Linked DNA regions of Homo sapiens: region 2 is linked to region 1. Evidence: fine-mapped expression QTL. A gene starts in region 1. The other region holds a variant in brackets. All regions are shown on one strand. Distances are between the middles of the regions.

Region 1 (5,384 bases):
TAACTTTCTTTTAAAAATCATTCAGATTGTGTCTATGGAAGCAATTTTCAAGTATATGGGGAAAGAAATGTTAGGAAAGGAGGAAAATCAAAAATTTAAGTCATTCTAACCCACTGTAACGTGTCTAAGAAATCAACTCCAGACAATTCCAAATAGTAACAAAACAAAAAATAAGTACAAATTTTAATTTTAATATAACTTTCCACTTCAAGAGGAGTCTTTTTTTCTGTAGAGCTGGATCATTAATAACGCCAGAATATGACCCTGAATGTCGCTAAATGGATCCAAAAGAAAAGAAAAACCAGACTGGATAACCTTCAATATTTAAAGTGGACATTTTTTTCCACCACACAAGATACATATTAATAAAGGAATTCGTAAATAAACTGAGTATCTCTTCAAATTTTACTCTAGAATTGAGGGCTGGAAGTAACTCTAGTTTTCCTCCAACTTTAGTTGCACTTCACTCAGATTTACTTGATGGTTTTTCTTTCAAGGCTCTTTAAAATGTCAAGGCTTTTGCAAAGCCTTGTACCAAAATAGCTACTATACATAATATTACAATTATTTTCTGGTACATTTTTCCTAAAAATTAATCATCCACTCACAGTAACATCTATTTCTTAGTCTAAATTACACTGCTGAGGGTTTTTTGTTTTTGTTTTTGCTGGCTTCTCAAAAGGTATTTAAAATGATTTTGAGGTGAGAGTATGCAAAAAACACTTCACATTACTTTTCCATATTCAAATTACATCCTCTTGAGCTGATTTTTAAGTGCCATGTACATTTTTAAATCAAAATTTATCACTGTCATTCTTTTAACTCTCGCTCTCCATGCTGAGCTCTTCCAAATGCCAAAGTGCCCTATTAATCCGAAAGTACCTATTATCTGTGCTTTTTTCTGGCCTGTCTTTCACAACTTCACACCAACTTTTTGTACTTTAGACCCCCTCATCCATTAAAGCACCTGTTAACCCTTTAAGGTATTTAACCATATGGTTAGCTTTCCGCATAATCCTACTTTTCCTTTAACAAACACAAACTTCACTACATAATTCCCCTTCAGCGTTCCCTCCTCTTCGAAATTCACATCAACACTGCCGTGAAGCAACATACATAGGCATCCCTATTCTCAAGCCCCAATTCATCAGTTTAGCGCCACTAAAGAAGAATTTAAATCTCCGGACCCTCATTTCCGTACTCCGATGAAGCTTTGCACTCGCGTTCCCGCACTACCCGGCCAGCCTCCCTCAGCTGGCAATTACAAGGTCCTTTGCTGCCCGGAGCACAAGAGTGCAACTCGCTACAGTGTTCACATGTTGCTCTCCGTCATCCCAGCATCTCCTCCCATTTCTGCGCACCTATCCCTTCATGAGCCCCCAAAAGAATTCGTATCCAGATGCCCATAGCTCAAATTAGAATACCCCTCATCTGACATTGCCAGGGCTTCCTGTACGACTTCCAAGAGAACACGCGATGCTAAGCGCTTCTGTCTCCGGAGACCAGCAACACACGCTCCCCACTGAGTTCGGTCTTCTCTCTCGCTCTCTCTCCGCGGAATGCCTACTTCGGGGCTACCCTTTGGCTAGGGAAGCCCAACCTTGCAACCTCTGCCCCGTGACCTCGCGAGCCCAGCACGCCGCTCAAGCTTAATTCAACCCATTCTTGGAGCTCGTGCTCTCGCTGCCCCTTGTTCCCGGTTCTCTTTGAAACCGCTTTCAGCCCCCGAGCCAGACCCCAGGTTAGATGAACGCCCACTTGCTCCGGCGGCAGCGCCTCCTCGGCCCCTTCCACAGCACTCAGCCCGGGGCAGTTCAGTTCCTCACCTAGCTTCGAGCGGGACTCCTCCAGTTTCTGGATCTGGTTTTCCAAGAAGAGCATCGCCACCGCGAAGGCCACCACCGCCAGCAGCTGCAACTTGGGCGGCATCATAATCCTGAGGAGCCCCATGAAACCCGCTGCTCGGGATCAAGACATACCGCGGGGGGCGGGGAGCGGGACCCCGGAGGCGAGAGAGACGCCGGGAGGAGCCCGCCGAGCCGGGAGCGAGGCAAAGAGAGAGCGACAGCGAGAGAACCACCGCAGCGACCCCCCTTCTCGCCTCTCCAGTCCCCCTCCCCCAGGCGCTATCACCAACGCCGCTGGTGTCCGCTTCTCCTCAGCCGACTAAACGGCCGCCCCCTCCAAAAGCCCGCGCAGCAAACAGCGCGAAGCGGCTGCCGGGCTCTCGCCTCCCTCTACTGCCTCAGTCCCCGACCCCCGCGCCCGCCTGCTTGCCCGCCTCCCTCTCTTCCTTCCTTCCCTCCCTCCTTTGCTCGCGGCCGCGCGCCCCTCCACCGGCGCTGCGGCTGCGCCGCCCTCATCCCCGCCCCCGCCCATCCCCCTCCGCCACCACGCGCACGCATCCGCGTACGCTGCTCGGCAACCAGAAGCCCCGCCCCTCCCCCCGTTCGGGTCCGCTTATTGGACGGAAGAGCCCCTGCGCTTCGCTCTTGGTTCGGTTTACGGTTGGTTTCCTCTGCCACAGAGCTCAATCAAGACGACATTCAATTGGGTAAACTTGGAGAAGAAGGCGGGGCTAAAACTGGCGAAGGCGTGGCTTCTTGGCTGCTTGACGAAGTGTCGTGAATAAAAGAAAGGAGACCGCAGAAGTAAAGAAGTGGGGAGTTTAGGCAAGTGCCTGATTTGGGTAATCGAAAGCACCCAGTGATTGTATTTGATGACTTTTAAGCTTTCATATGCCGTTATTTAATACCTGTCACTTCCAAATGAGAGATGTAAGGGCAACGGCCGTTAGCGTTCTGTTTTGGATCAGGCTCTGGAGTGGACGCCCCTAGCTTAGGGGTCCTTCTAGGCAGCCAGAAACCTGCGGAAAATGGTAGCGATGGCGGCTGGGCCGAGTGGGTGTCTGGTGCCGGCGTTTGGGCTACGGTTGTTGTTGGCGACTGTGCTTCAAGCGGTGAGTGTAGATCACCTTCGCAGCTGCCACAGGGAGAGTAGGAGTGATTGCAGCTGAGAAAGACGCAACATTCGGTCCTGGTTGAAAAGGGTGGGGAGGACTGCGCTTCCTTAATGACTGCTGCGGCCAGAATGCAACGTGGCTTAATTTCTCGGTTGATCCTTCTCCTTCCCCGCCTTGGGTTTCTAGCAGCAGTTTTCTCTTGATTTCAGATTGTCTTGGGTACGTAGCTTCTCTTATACGGCTCTTGCTAAAAACAATCTGTAAACCACACCAGGTGGGAGGGGGGAATAATAAAGCTTGGCAAGAAGTGGAGGTTGTTTTTAAATGGACAGAAATGCAAGAGACTCATGACGAGACTTCCAACTCTTAGAGGCAAGTCTTCAAGTCGTTGGTCCAGGCGAACAGTTTGTGTTTACCTCTCTCGCGCGCGTGCTCTCTCATTTTCACTACTTCTGTTAGTCTCTTAACTTCCGTTCTCCTCTGCTATTCATATACGGCTGGCTGCGCTTGAGTGCGATTTGTGCTTTTAAACAATGTTGTTGGAGTAAAAGGAGTTATCTATACCAAAGTATAATTCATTTTTGAAGTTAGTTTTTTAAATGATGTTCGTTGTCTTCTTTAAGGCAGCGTTTTTTATTTCATTTTTCTCTATTGGCAGAATAGATGGGTGACCTTTGAATGGGAAAAGTGTACTTTTAACTTATTTCTTCTCATATCCATGTTCTGCTGTGTGAATAGTAAAATTTTAGGCACAGTGCTGAAAGCTTTTACGTTTTTTTATCCTAGCTTAATTCTTCGGGTAGTCTCTAATAAGGAGACCTGGTTTAATTTACTTATCCAAGGTTGAGGGTGTTAAGGGACTACACCGGAGTCCTCTATGAACACCTGTACTTACCTTTCTCAAAGAGCTTGAAAGCATCCTGGCTGTTTGCTTTGGCTACTTTAACCAAAAGGTAGATTCTTAACTTCTGTAATTAACATTCCAATTATCTTGTTATTCAGGCATTTGGTGCTAGGAATTACTGGATCACCTCTCCCTAAACTTTCTACTGTTTAAGGGTTTTTGCACATCTTTAGGTCATTCGAGATAACATTTCAGGTTGTCTTTTTTTGATCTCCCTCTGTCTTTGACTGTCAGTTGTCTATAGCTGTGTAACCGCCCTAAAACCTAGTAGCTTAAAACAGCAATGATTTCTCATAATTCTGGGTCAGTGGAGTAGAACTACTCCACCTATGTTGGTTTTCCCCTGGCCTCATTTATGCTTTTTGTTGACCTAGTAGGTCAGCTAAACCGAAAGGTTCCAGGATTACCACTGTTTATAGTTGGTGCTGTCAGCTCGAGGACTTGGTTCTGTTCCGTGTGACCTCTCATCCTCCAGTCGGCTAGACCAACTTCTTTTCATGGCACTCTCAGGGCAGCACTCCAAAAGAGCAAAAGCTACAATGCCTTCTAAAGCCTTGCCTTGGAAATCACATATATTACTTCCATCACATATTTCTCAAAGCAAGTCACAAGACTAGTTCACATTCAGGGATGGAGAAATAGATTTCATCTCTACATGGGAGGAATGACAGAGTCACTTTGCAAAGTGTGCATACCAGGATAGGAGGTATTTATGGAATTAACTAATTCCATATGTAATAATGATAGGAATTAATTAAACAGCGTACCACAGTGACTGTGCACAGAATCCAAACTAGAAATTTGGATGTCATGTTTGACTCCTTTCCTTACATATATCATATCCAGGGAATTACTGAAACTTACTGATTTTAATTCCTAAGTATCTCAAATCCATCCACTTATTGTTAATCACTCAGGCCATAAACATCTCTCTCCTCAGAAATAACAGCGTCTTGGTTCACCGTTTGAATTATCCCTGGCTGTATTCAGAATCTAAATGGTTGGCTTTGCCTTTGTCAGCTTCCCAATTGCCCAAGCCAAAAATTAGTCATTTTTGGCCAGTTGTGGTGGCTCATTCCAGTGCACTTTGGGAGGCTGAGGTGGGCAAATCACCTGAGGTCAGGAGTTCAAGACTAGTCTGGCCAACACGGTGAAACCCCGTCTCTAGTAAAAATATAAAAATTAGCTGGGCGTGGTGGCGCATGCCTACTCGGGAGGCTGAGGCAGGAGAATCACTTGAACCCAGGAGGCGGAGGTTGCACTGAGCCGAGATTGCACCATTGCACTCCAGTCTGGGTAACAGAGCAGGACTCTGTCTCAAAAAAAAAAAAAAAAATAGTCATTTTAAATCCTCTTTCCTTTCACTGTCTGAATTCAATTAGTCGTTAAAGCCTTAAAAATCTCTAAGCCAGTCCACTTAATAATTTTGTTTCCACAGTTAGTATTTATATTCAGGCTACTATCTTTGCCTAGAATTACAACAGCTTCCTTAACTAGTCTCCCATCTCATTATTTCAT
Region 2 (5,384 bases), 58 kb before region 1:
CTTTCTAAGAGCTACCAAATAATTTTATCTCAATCAGAGAAAAGAAAAATTAAGGTGCCTTTTTTTATGCAGCCAATTAGCATTTTGAGCACTATAAATTACAACAGTACTTCTTCCTTTGCCTACCACCAAAATAGGAAAAGCTTAAAAAAAAAAAAAGAAAAAGCTATAATTTTAAAACACTGATCTCTTTTCCACAGAAAATGACTTTTAGATCACATGGAAAGTAACATGATTTTAAAATATGCGTATAAAACTTTTTTCTCTACCAAAGTCTTTGAGTACTTTGGAAGAGAATAAATTAAATTTAAGGTTCATGTAGATACATAAGGGTATGCCAACCGAACAAATCTTAAAAACTACAGATTACCAAATAATAACTTTCAGGAGCTCACCAGAATCCAGCCAGTTCTGTGGTTGCAAAGGGAAGAATAAAATTCTGTACTCAAAGGAGTCCCAAGAAGTTGACTTCAGTCAATTTGAACCTCTAGGTAATCAAACTCCATAGATAATCAATTTAAAAGATTCTAAAGAGACCAAAAGAGATCAGAAAGATCCTGAGTTTGGAATCTACTTAAGAAAAAGAATAACTTGAGAGTCTCAGACCTAAAGACATGCCAAAATGCGATGACTACTAAATGAAAACATTGTTTTTCTCCTATACTCACACAGAAACACCAGTGGGTCTTAATGTGTGGGTTTTCCATACCAAGCAATGCTCCAATTCTCTGCAGTCACCAACTGACTGTCCTACAATTTAACCCAATTCTGCTCAGAGTTAGTGCAGAACCCACAGCTTAAAGGTTCAGTCCCACAAGACTGTTCCCACTTCAGATGCCAGTTCCAAGTAAGGGTCCTCAGGTTATTCACAAACTTCTGTTTGGATTGGTTATAAATCAGAGGTTTCCATGACATCCTCCATTTGGTTTGATAATTTACTATGACAATTCACAAAACTCAGGAAAGCACTTTAGTTACATTTACCAGTTTATTATAATGAATGCAACTCAGAAACAGCCAAATGGAAGAGATGTGTAAGGCAAGGTAGAGGAGGTGCACAGAACTCCCATGGCCTCTCTGGACTCATTTCAATGCAACCTAGAAGCTCTCCAAATCCCACAGTTTAATAATTTTTAGCATTCATCATGTAGGTATAATCGATTATTAATTCAATCTCCAGTCCCTCTCCCCTTTCCAGAAGATGGGAGTGGGGCTGAAATTTCCAAGGTTCTAATTATGGTGTGGACTTTCTGGTGACCAGCCCCCATTCTGAAGCTATGCAGGAGCCCAAGTGTCACCCCATTAGAACAAAAGACTCTACTATCACCCCAAAAATTTAAAGGGATTTAGGAGTTCTGAGACAGGAACCAGGGTCAATGACCAAATATTAAAACAGAATATAGGACAGTACTCCTACAACTCAGGAAATTATAAGGGCTTTCATGTTCTCTGTGTCAGGAACTGGGGGTAGGACCAAAAATATATTTCTTACTCTGTCACAACTATAGACTTAAACTCTTAAATTGCTCTGCAAATGCTAAATTGTCACAAGACTCCTCTGGATAAGGGAGAGCTAGACGACTGATTTCTAAAACCTTAAGACTTATGAATTCTACATATCATATTTTATCCCATTAAATGGAAAACTGGGTTCAAGGAGAACCACCTTGGTTTTCAAATCAATTTCATTAAAATATAATTTGCCTACAATAAAATATACTCACTTCAAATGTACACTATAAGGTTTTGGGAAAAAAATTAAGATAGAAGATATTTCCTTCATCCCAAAAGGTTCCTCAGCTCCCTTTGGGTCAACTTCCCACTCTTAGCCCAAGGCAATCAACAATGTACTGGCATTGTAGACTAGTTTTGCCTTTCTAGAATTTCATATTTATCCCTTACTAATAATTCTGTGAGGTAATTTGAGGCCCAACAAAGGTAAGCAACTTGCACAACTTCACAGGACTCCAAGATTAGAATTTAGGGTTTGAAATCAGATCTGTCTAATGCCAAGGCCTACTATTAGGTGATACTACAAGATTTACATCTTGTTCATTTTCGCATCCCTAGCGTTTTTCATTTTAGCATACTTGATCATTGAATGATAAAATGAATTTAAGGAAACTGATCTAAACTTGATCCAAAAAAAAGGAAAGATTGATTTTGAATGATAAATCCATAGATCTTGGTAATTAGTTAGATTTAAAAAAAAAAAAGACCATAAATTTACACAAATTAAAAAAAAAATTTAAGAACAAAGAAAGATCCTTAGATTTTATCTGCATAGTCTCAAAGTGTCTCCCAAGAAATGTATTAACTGCAAATGGAAAGATAGCTTTACAGTGGAGAAACCCAGCAGAAACCACCTTAACAAGTGATCAAGGTTGCTATCACCAGTAAAGAAGACATACAT[C/T]GTGAACCCCATGACAAAAGACATATTGTTTCTGTGATATTGTTGTCAAATATGCATAACTCTGGCCCAATCATGAGAGCACATTGTACAAACTCAAAGTGTAGCCATAGAAGACAAAAAGTCTGCAGAACTATTATAGACTGCAGAATAAAGACAACTAAATCTAATGTGCAATCCTGGATTATATCCTGATCAGAAGAAAGGCATTAGAAGAAAAACACGTGGAATTCAAATAAGGCCTGCAGTTAATAACATATATGTCAACCTCCTAGTTTGAATAACTGTCCCATGGTTATGCAAAATGTTAACATTAGATGAAACTGTGTAAGGAACACAGTAGTCCCAGCACCCTATCCCCAGGGGATGCGCCCCAAGACCCCCAGTGGATGCTTGAAACTGCAAACAATATTGAACACTACATATGTACTAAGTTTTATCCTATACATACCTATGATTAAGTTTAATTTACAAATTAGGCACAATAAGAGATTAACAGCAACAATAATAAAATAGCCAGGTGTGGTGGTTCTTGGCTGTAATCCCAGCTACTTGGGGCTGAGCCAGGAGGATGGCTTGAGCCCTAGAGTTCAAGGCTACAGTGAGCTATGATTACACCACTGCACTCCAGCCTGGGCGATAGAATGAGACCTCCATCTCTTAAAAAAAAATAATTATTAAATAGATTATAATAACATTGTAATACAAGCCATGTGAATGTTCTCTCTCTCCCTCTCAAAATATTTTATTATACTGTACTCATCAATTTTCAGACCAAGGTTGACCTTGGCTAACTGAAACTAGAGAAAGTGAAACCTAGGATGAAGGAGGTATGTATATATGTAAACACAAAACGTTTTTTAAAAGGGGTCCTTAAAAATTTTTCTGAAACATTAACAACTCATAACCTTGCAACTGCAATAATGAATGCACTTAAACCAATCTTATGATGAAACTCTATGGTTAATTGTTGTAAAATTTAAATCATGCCAACTTTTACTGAACATCTTCTCTATGTAAATCAGTATAGAATGTGGTGACATAGTGATTCATTTAATAAACAAGTTATGACAAGTATAAAAAGTTGAAGGTTAAACTATTGAAAGAGCTAGTTCAAAACACAAAGCCAGTAATTCTGAAGAGTGATAGTTTTCATATCTTCTGAGATCAGAATACTTTTGCATTTTTTTTTTCTTTCAAGAATGAAGACTTCAACCTCGGTCAGAATATTAATACGTATTAACATTATAACCTCTTGTTGCACAAAATTCCTACAAATTCTTGATCAAAAACATGATGCAATGAAATAAAATTTTCAAGTCCTAACCAAACATAATGCAGTATATATGATAGATATACACTACAAGGGACTCTGTTTTGTTCAGAACAAAACTTTCTGCTGTGAAATGCTCATTTCCCTACTCTAAGATTGGACGTGTAAAGAAGCTATCACTTTTATTCAAATTCCACATCTTCATAGCCAATCTGTTAGATATAAGACTAGACATCTAACCATCTGACCTAAGCTGAGTACATAATAAAACCCCACCCTAGGTCCAATTTATATATTGGTTAGGGTTTTTTGGCTTAAAACAAATTTAAGAAATTAAAAATAAGAGTAAGAAGGAGGTGGTCCGTTTTATTGGAAAGACTGGAAGGATGCTTGGGTAGCTCACAGAACTGAAGAAATAACTAAACCGCCAAGGTTTTTTTTTGTTTTGTTTTGTTTTGTTTTGTTTTTTAAATAATGACAGGAATCAGAGGAGTTCTATAGGCCTTAACAGCACTAATGTATAGACCTTCCCTCTTGGATGCCACTATTTCCATGTCTAGCCAATTTAATTTCTTTGTTTGAGCAGAAACTTTATCTGAATTTTCCATCATTGTATCTCTAGCAACCAAACATGTAACAGGCCTTCAATAAATACTTGCTGACTGAATGAACTAATAAAATTAGTCAATAAAGTAATTCCTGAGTGAGAAAATCAAATTGGCCTAGCTTATTTCAGATATCTATCCCTAGATAATCAACTGATCTGGCATCAGTAGAAGACATTTTGGGGCCTTTTCCGTAAAAGAGAACTTGTCAATTGTGCTAACTGGCATCTATTATATATATAAATATTAAAATATTTGACCTGTAAATTATTTGTCATATCAAATGGAGTTTTCATGTACATTTTAAGTCCTCTAGATTTGCATTTCTGTACCACCCTTAAATTATTTCTATAATTTTTTCTCATAAATAATAAACAAAGGCCATGTGTGAACCAAAATAACTTTAAATGTGGACATTCACTCATGCCATCACCGGAAAAATTAAATAAAAATTACAGGCAGGGCACAGTGGCTCATGCCTGCAATCCCAGCACTTTGGGAGGCCAAGGAGGGTGGATCACTTGAGGTCAGGTGTTCGAGACCAGCCTGGCCAACATGGTGAAACCCCATTTCAAAACAAAAATTTGCCAAGCATGGTGGTGCACGCCTGTAGTCCCAGCAACTTGGGAGGCTGAGGCACAACAATCACTTGAACCCGGGAGGTGGAGGCTGCAGTGATCTGAGATCATGCCACTGCACTCCAGCCTGGGCAACTGAGCAAGACTCTGTCTCAAAAAAAAAATTATAAATTAAAATTATGCTTAAAATCTTTTAATTTATATTTCATTAAGCAGATTTTTCATTCAGTTTTTTTATTCACAACTGACCTATACTTCTTGTGGATTCTTCCCAGCACTGTTATGGCTTACAGAGGAAACTATTTTAATCATGTTTATTTGCATTAATACATTATTACTTGTAAAATGTGCATTGTTAGGATGAATAACCAAAACAAAATAAAATCATTCTGTTATAAAATGTTAAAGTTGTCTCTTTAACTAAATACTCATTTTTTTTTTTTTTTTGAGATGGAGTTTCACTCTTGTTGCCCAGGCTGGAGTGCAATGGCGCGATCTTGACTCACCGCGATCTCTGC

The links. PIP is the estimated chance that this variant, and not a neighbour inherited with it, causes the effect.
Region 2: its variant is the best candidate, but not a certain one, in a credible set for the expression of HS2ST1 in whole blood (TOPMed, PIP 0.51).

What each region holds. Positions count from the first base shown.
Region 1 is chr1:86,911,603-86,916,986 of GRCh38, reverse strand. HS2ST1 (heparan sulfate 2-O-sulfotransferase 1) reads right to left here and starts at 2,352. Exons shown (of 7, transcript NM_012262.4): 1 at 1,827-2,352. The coding sequence starts at 1,950. SELENOF (selenoprotein F) reads left to right here and starts at 2,861. Exons shown (of 5, transcript NM_004261.5): 1 at 2,861-2,959. The coding sequence starts at 2,876. RefSeq lists enhancers at 2,612-2,731, 2,782-2,941, 2,335-2,949, 3,052-3,101, 2,950-3,564.
Region 2 is chr1:86,970,055-86,975,438 of GRCh38, reverse strand. All of the region lies in intron 1 of HS2ST1 (heparan sulfate 2-O-sulfotransferase 1), which reads right to left. LOC124904211 (a long non-coding RNA gene) reads right to left here and starts at 5,347. Exons shown (of 2, transcript XR_007066207.1): 1 at 396-5,347. The variant C/T (reference allele first, on the strand shown) is at 2,414.